2 linked regions of the Homo sapiens genome follow. The protein of the gene in region 1 purifies or fractionates together with the protein of each later gene. This does not show direct contact. Each region holds a gene or a part of one and is shown in the gene's direction. Other genes may lie near its edges.

The links. Proteins that work in one complex are often made in the same cells at the same time.
Region 2: the proteins of HERPUD1 (region 1) and CAPN15 purify together in Homo sapiens (affinity purification with mass spectrometry; 3 studies listed by BioGRID and IntAct, with this or other methods). This does not show direct contact.

The regions. Positions count from the first base shown.
Region 1 is NC_000016.10:56,942,142-56,945,364, forward strand, and holds the end of HERPUD1 (homocysteine-responsive endoplasmic reticulum-resident ubiquitin-like domain member 1 protein), read left to right. Parts: coding exon 1-96; intron 97-984; coding exon 985-1,149; coding exon of another isoform or gene 1,150-1,252; 3' UTR 1,253-2,723; downstream 2,724-3,223. UniProt on the Homo sapiens protein: Component of the endoplasmic reticulum quality control (ERQC) system also called ER-associated degradation (ERAD) involved in ubiquitin-dependent degradation of misfolded endoplasmic reticulum proteins.
Region 2 is NC_000016.10:551,712-555,136, forward strand, and holds the end of CAPN15 (calpain-15), read left to right. Parts: intron 1-339; coding exon 340-501; intron 502-589; coding exon 590-819; intron 820-893; coding exon 894-1,060; intron 1,061-1,151; coding exon 1,152-1,330; intron 1,331-1,603; coding exon of another isoform or gene 1,604-1,627; coding exon 1,628-1,805; 3' UTR 1,806-2,925; downstream 2,926-3,425.

The DNA.
Region 1 (3,223 bases):
GGGTGGTTTCCATTTAGACCGAGGCCGGTTCAGAACTTCCCAAATGATGGTCCTCCTCCTGACGTTGTAAATCAGGACCCCAACAATAACTTACAGGTATGGAGCCTCCCACGAAGCCCAGGCGAGCTTGACGTGATATGCCAGGCTCTCCAATCCTCAACCTTTAGATTGCCAGCTTGCGGTTTACCATTTTATTGGGCTAAATATTTCATGATTTGTTCACATTTCTTCTTAGAGCAGCAGCTATTTTTAAAACGTCGAATGTGCCATCACATTCTATCACATATTTTTGACGTGGCAATTTGCATTTTGGCTTAAGTAAATAACATTTTTTTAAACCCACTATTTTGAGCGTTCAGTGGTCTGTAACAGTGTGTTATACCATAAGAACTGGTATGAAGTGGTTAACTACTAGTTTAATAATAGTTGAAGCCTGGGCGTGGTGGCTCACGCCTGTAATCCCAGCGCTTTGGGAGGCTGAGGCAGGTAGATCACCTGAGGTCAGGAGTTTAAGACCAGCCTGGCCAACATGGTGACACCCCGTCTCTACTAAAATTACAAAAATTAGTTGGGCGTGCCTGTATTCTCAGCTGCTAGGGAGGCTGAGGCGGAAGGATGGCTTGACCTTGGGAGGTGGAGGTTGCAGTAAGCCAAGATCACACCACTGCACTCCAGCCTGGGTGACAGAGCGAGACTCTGTCTCAAAAATAATAATAATAGTTGCAGATCTAGTTGTTTCATTTGATATTTGCTGCCAGGAGCAGTCAAAACTATGACAACATCAACACAGTTGTGCTGTGGAAGCCTGAGAAACAGCCCTATCCAGCCTAGGGCATCATTCCCTGGGGTCCTGGCTGCCTGCTGCTGTGCCTATGGGGCAGGGGGCAGGGATTTACCCTGCCCTTTCCTAACATTATTTGGTGTTCATCATAGCCCTAATTGTTTTCTCATTGTTTCATTACCTCATTGTTTCATTACCTGTAGGAAGGCACTGATCCTGAAACTGAAGACCCCAACCACCTCCCTCCAGACAGGGATGTACTAGATGGCGAGCAGACCAGCCCCTCCTTTATGAGCACAGCATGGCTTGTCTTCAAGACTTTCTTTGCCTCTCTTCTTCCAGAAGGCCCCCCAGCCATCGCAAACTGATGGTGTTTGTGCTGTAGCTGTTGGAGGCTTTGACAGGAATGGACTGGATCACCTGACTCCAGCTAGATTGCCTCTCCTGGACATGGCAATGATGAGTTTTTAAAAAACAGTGTGGATGATGATATGCTTTTGTGAGCAAGCAAAAGCAGAAACGTGAAGCCGTGATACAAATTGGTGAACAAAAAATGCCCAAGGCTTCTCATGTCTTTATTCTGAAGAGCTTTAATATATACTCTATGTAGTTTAATAAGCACTGTACGTAGAAGGCCTTAGGTGTTGCATGTCTATGCTTGAGGAACTTTTCCAAATGTGTGTGTCTGCATGTGTGTTTGTACATAGAAGTCATAGATGCAGAAGTGGTTCTGCTGGTACGATTTGATTCCTGTTGGAATGTTTAAATTACACTAAGTGTACTACTTTATATAATCAATGAAATTGCTAGACATGTTTTAGCAGGACTTTTCTAGGAAAGACTTATGTATAATTGCTTTTTAAAATGCAGTGCTTTACTTTAAACTAAGGGGAACTTTGCGGAGGTGAAAACCTTTGCTGGGTTTTCTGTTCAATAAAGTTTTACTATGAATGACCCTGGCAGAGACTCCTGTCATCCTAGCAGTTTACTCTGCGTTTGTTGTATCTAGACAGTCAACAACTGAGTTGTCGGTGTTTAACCTGAATGCTTGTTTTTCAGAAGAGGACTGTTTGTGCCGGTAAGAATGATCAGGTAAGGCCATGAAAGTTTTTGTTGGCGTTTTTGTTTTTGAGATGGGGTCTTGCTTTGTTCCTTGGGCCAGAGTACATTGGCTACTCACAAGTGGGCTGGTAGCTGGCTACAGCCCCAGACTCCTGGCTTAAGCCACCTCCTGCCTCAGCCACCCTGGCAGCTGGGACTACAGGCATGCGCCATCACACTTAGCTTGAAAGTTTTAATTTACTAAGAATATACCTGTGTTTCCCCCCATTTCCTGATTTAAACAGTACTGGCTTATATAGGAACCCATCAAAGTTAAATTCCCCAAATTTAAATTTAGTAAATTTAGTGGTTTCACCTTGGCAAATCTGCAATAGTTTCACCAGCTCAAATTTCATGCTTTTGTAAGCTGAGCTTATGTTTGTGATTTTAATCCTTTAAGTACTACTGTGGTAACTAATCATTTTTTTGTTTTTTTTGGTGGTGTTTTTGTTTTTGTTTTGAGATGGAGTCTCACTCTGTTGCCCAGGCTGGAGTGCCGTGGCGCGATCTCGGCTCACTGCAACCTCTACCTCCTGAGTTCAAGCGATTCTCCTGCCTCAGCCTCCCGAATAGCTGGGATTACAGGTGCCCACCACAATGTCTGGCTAATTTTTTGTATTTTTAGTAGAGACGAGGTTTCACCCATGTTGGCCAGGCTGGTCTCAAACCCCTGACCTCAGGTGATCTGCCCGCCTCGGCCTCCCAAAGTGCTGGGATTACAGATGTGAGCCACCGCACCCAGCCAGGGACTAATCTTTAAAGCAAAGTTTTATATATTTTTACGTGAGTAATGTTATGTGTAGGTGTTCTATTTGGCAAAATAAATCAGCCTTTTCTATCATGATTGTGGTCATTTAAATTAATCCTCATCGGAAACATTGTTTACCTAAGATAAACATTCACTAAACAACTCATAGCAAGACGCTGGGTAGGTACAAAGATGTCTTATGTGTGGTTATGCTTTCAAAGCCAACTGAAACCCTTTTGTAAGGAGTTAAATAGCAAAAAGTTTCAAATAACTGTGTGCCTCTAGAACAGAACTATCAGAAGGCAATGAATATTCACAAATTGTGAAGAGATAGTTTGCTTCAAGGAAGAAATGACTTGTAACTAGAGTAGGTATGAAATGATGGGGGAAAAATGATGAGGTATGAAATGACTCACCTTCTCTCCAGCTCAAGGTAAGAAGGGTGGCAGCAGGAGTAAAAGCTCAGCCACAGGACGTGCTCTTCCTGCCAAACAGCTGGATTCTGCACATGCTTGGGAATGAGGTCCTGCTGGTTTAGGAAAACAAACATTAAGAATTCCCAAAGTCTTGGGTGGAAAAGCCTGTTGCTTTTC
Region 2 (3,425 bases), about 56 Mb from region 1:
GCCGAGTCCTTCTCTGGAGAACAAGCCTGTCCCTCCTGCTGACCTGGGGTGGGGCGGCTTGTTCGTGGCCCAAATGGGACCTGGAGCTTCAGCTCCAAGGTGCCAACCTCAGAATTCAGGTCCACCCAGGTCAGCAGATTCCAGCGCCCTGAAGAGCCGGCCCTGGAGGGCTTCCTATTATAGGCCTCAGGGATGGGCCCCCGGGGGCCGGGCTGCAAGAGGACGGTGACGGAGCAGCTGGCACCTGCTGGGGTCACCGGCCTGTGGTTGCGGTAGGCGCTGAGCCACGGAGGTGTGGGCCGTGGTAGGCTCAGGGCCCCGTCCTCCCGCCACCTGCAGGTACTTCGACTCCGTGGACATCTGTAAGGTGCACTCGGACTGGCAGGAGGCGCGGGTGCAGGGCTGCTTTCCCAGCTCGGCCAGCGCGCCCGTGGGGGTAACAGCGCTCACGGTGCTGGAGCGGGCCTCGCTGGAGTTCGCGCTCTTCCAGGAGGGCAGCAGGTGGGTGCTGCGGGGCCCCATCGGGCTGGGCTGGGCTAGGCTGGCGGCCGTGACCACGCGTGACCCTGGCCCGTGGTGTCTGGCGCAGGCGCTCGGACGCCGTGGACAGCCACCTGCTGGACCTGTGCATCCTGGTGTTCCGGGCCACGTTCGGCAGCGGCGGCCACCTCAGCCTGGGCCGCCTCCTGGCCCACAGTAAGCGCGCGGTCAAGAAGTTCGTCAGCTGCGACGTCATGCTGGAGCCTGGCGAGTACGCTGTGGTGTGCTGCGCCTTCAACCACTGGGGGCCGCCCCTGCCGGGCACCCCTGCCCCCCAGGGTACGTGGCCCCTACCCCAGGCTCATGCCCCAGGCCCACGGGGAGGGCTGCGGTTCACACGCCCGTCCTTGTAGCCTCCAGCCCCTCGGCAGGGGTCCCGAGAGCCTCCCCAGAGCCGCCGGGCCACGTGCTGGCTGTGTACAGCTCGAGGCTGGTCATGGTGGAGCCCGTGGAAGCCCAGCCGACCACGCTGGCCGACGCCATCATCCTGCTCACCGAGAGCCGCGGAGAGCGGCACGAGGTGGGTGGGGGTCCCGGGGGAGGGTGGCGTGGGGCAGGGGGAGTATGCCCCAGCACCTCCCCTGCCCCACAACTGCCATTCCTGTGCCCAGGGCCGTGAGGGCATGACCTGCTACTACCTGACACACGGTTGGGCGGGGCTCATCGTGGTGGTGGAGAACCGACACCCCAAGGCCTACCTGCACGTGCAGTGTGACTGCACCGACAGCTTCAACGTGGTGTCCACACGCGGCAGCCTGCGTACCCAGGATAGCGTGCCACCCCTGCACAGGTGCGCCCCCGCCCCTGCCCCCCCACCCCTGCACAGGTGCCCCCTCCCCTACCCCGCTGCACCCACACCCAACTCGTGCCCCCCCACCCCTGCACAGGTGCCCCCTCCCCTACCCCGCTGCACCCACACCCAACCCATGCCCCCCCCACCCCTGCAGAGGTGTGCTCATACCCCTGCCCCCACCCCTGTACGGGTGTTTGTCACCCCACTCCTGCTCCTGCCCCTGTACAGGTGGGCACAGCCCTGCCCCCATCCCCACCCTGCCCTCCACAGGTCCTCACCGGTCCCCTCCCCCAGGCAGGTCCTGGTGATCTTGTCCCAGCTAGAGGGCAACGCCGGCTTCTCTATCACCCACCGCCTGGCACATCGCAAGGCAGCCCAGGCCTTCCTCAGTGACTGGACAGCCTCCAAGGGGACCCACAGCCCCCCACTCACGCCAGAGGTCGCCGGTCTGCATGGGCCCCGACCGCTGTGACCACCATGCCTGGGGCAGGGGCTGTGCACAGACGGACCCCCCACCCCCACACGCACTTTATGAGGGAGACCCCGACAGAGGACGCTTGAGCCAGAATCTCAGGACCCCGCCCAGGGAGCTGCCAGCCCAGGGCTCAGCTTCCCATGGGCCCCCCGCCCCCCTCCTTCCCCTCCCTGAACCCCACAGTCCGCCTGGCCAGGCCTCCTGGCCGCCACGCAGAATACCTCGAACCAGGCGGGCTGTGAACCAGCCCCGCTCACCTGCCAGCCCCAACACCCGACGGGGGCCGAGGCCAGGCTGCCCCTCCCTGTGGGCTCAGGGTCTCCTGCGGGCTAGGCAGCCAGGAGCTCTGTCCGCAAAACCAAATCTGGGTGTCAGAGGCCAAGACCCTGGGGTGGGATCAGGGACCACCCCTCACGGGGCATAAGGTCAGTTTTCCCCCAGAGCCCGGGTCCCTGTCCCCCACAGGGCAGGCGGGGTCCCTGGAGCCCTGGTGTGGAGCGGCGAGTCCCGGGGCGGTGCCTGTCTCAGAAGAAGGGGCCCTTGGCCAGCCCCCCAGCGACACTATGCAAATCCTGGAGTGCCCGCCAGGATCGAAGCCATGACTGGGTGCAGGCGGGCGCCAGGCCCGCTGTGGGTGGGCACCAGTTCTCAGCACCGCTCACTGCTGCCGGGCACACTGGGACCAGCAGGCTCCTCAGCCAACCCTGTCCCTCGGCCCGGCCCTGCCAGAGAGGGACCCCAGCACATCGTGGGCACGGGCAGGGCTCAGCCGCTCCCACCTCCCCACAGAAGCCCAGGAGTGTGTGGACGTCTGAGCCCAGCTTTCTGCGTGCCCTCCTGGCCCCTCACTCCCGGCAGCGGGCCGGCCTCGCCCCCACTCCCCCTCCTACCCCGGCAGGGGCTTCCGGGGCCTTTTCACCTGGAGAAACATTCCCACTCCCCTTTGGCCTCCCTGTACTCTGAGCTGTGAATATTTTTAACCCTGTAAATACGGCCAGCTCTTGTGACACAGAGACTATTTTATCAATTGTCAGTCCCGTTCCTTTACCATAGGATTCTCCACAGTGGCTTCCGACTCAGGCTCCAATGGACCAAATAAAAGCGTTTTGTTTTGTAATCACGCCTCCTCCTCCTGCTGTTGCCCCGCGCAGGGCCCTGTGGAAGGGCGGGGAGGTTGCAGGTCTGAGGGGTAGGCCCTGCCCAGGCATCCCGGGCAGGCGGACGGGTGGGGGCCCCTGGAGATGGCCGTGGTGGGGTGACTCACAAGCTTGTAAGGGGCAGCCGGCCCTGCCAAATGGACGCAGCCAGGAAGGACGGAGTGACTGGGCGGGGGCAGGGGTCAGACCCTGCGGCCGCAGCCCCAGGGCCGGGAAGGACTGGGCAGACGGGACAGCAGCGCATGCAGCTTCTTCCAGCGAGGCATCCGCACGGGGGGCTCTGTCTGAACCCATCAGTCACCCGGCAGGAGCAGATGGAGTGAGGGGGCGCGTGGGGAGAAAAGTTTCCTGTCCCCTCCCAGCCTCGTCCCAGGGTGGCCTCTGCCCCCACACGGGTGCTGCTGAGCAAAGCGCCCGCTCGGAGGCTCTGCTGTCTCCCTGGACGGAGTTGGGGGCTGGG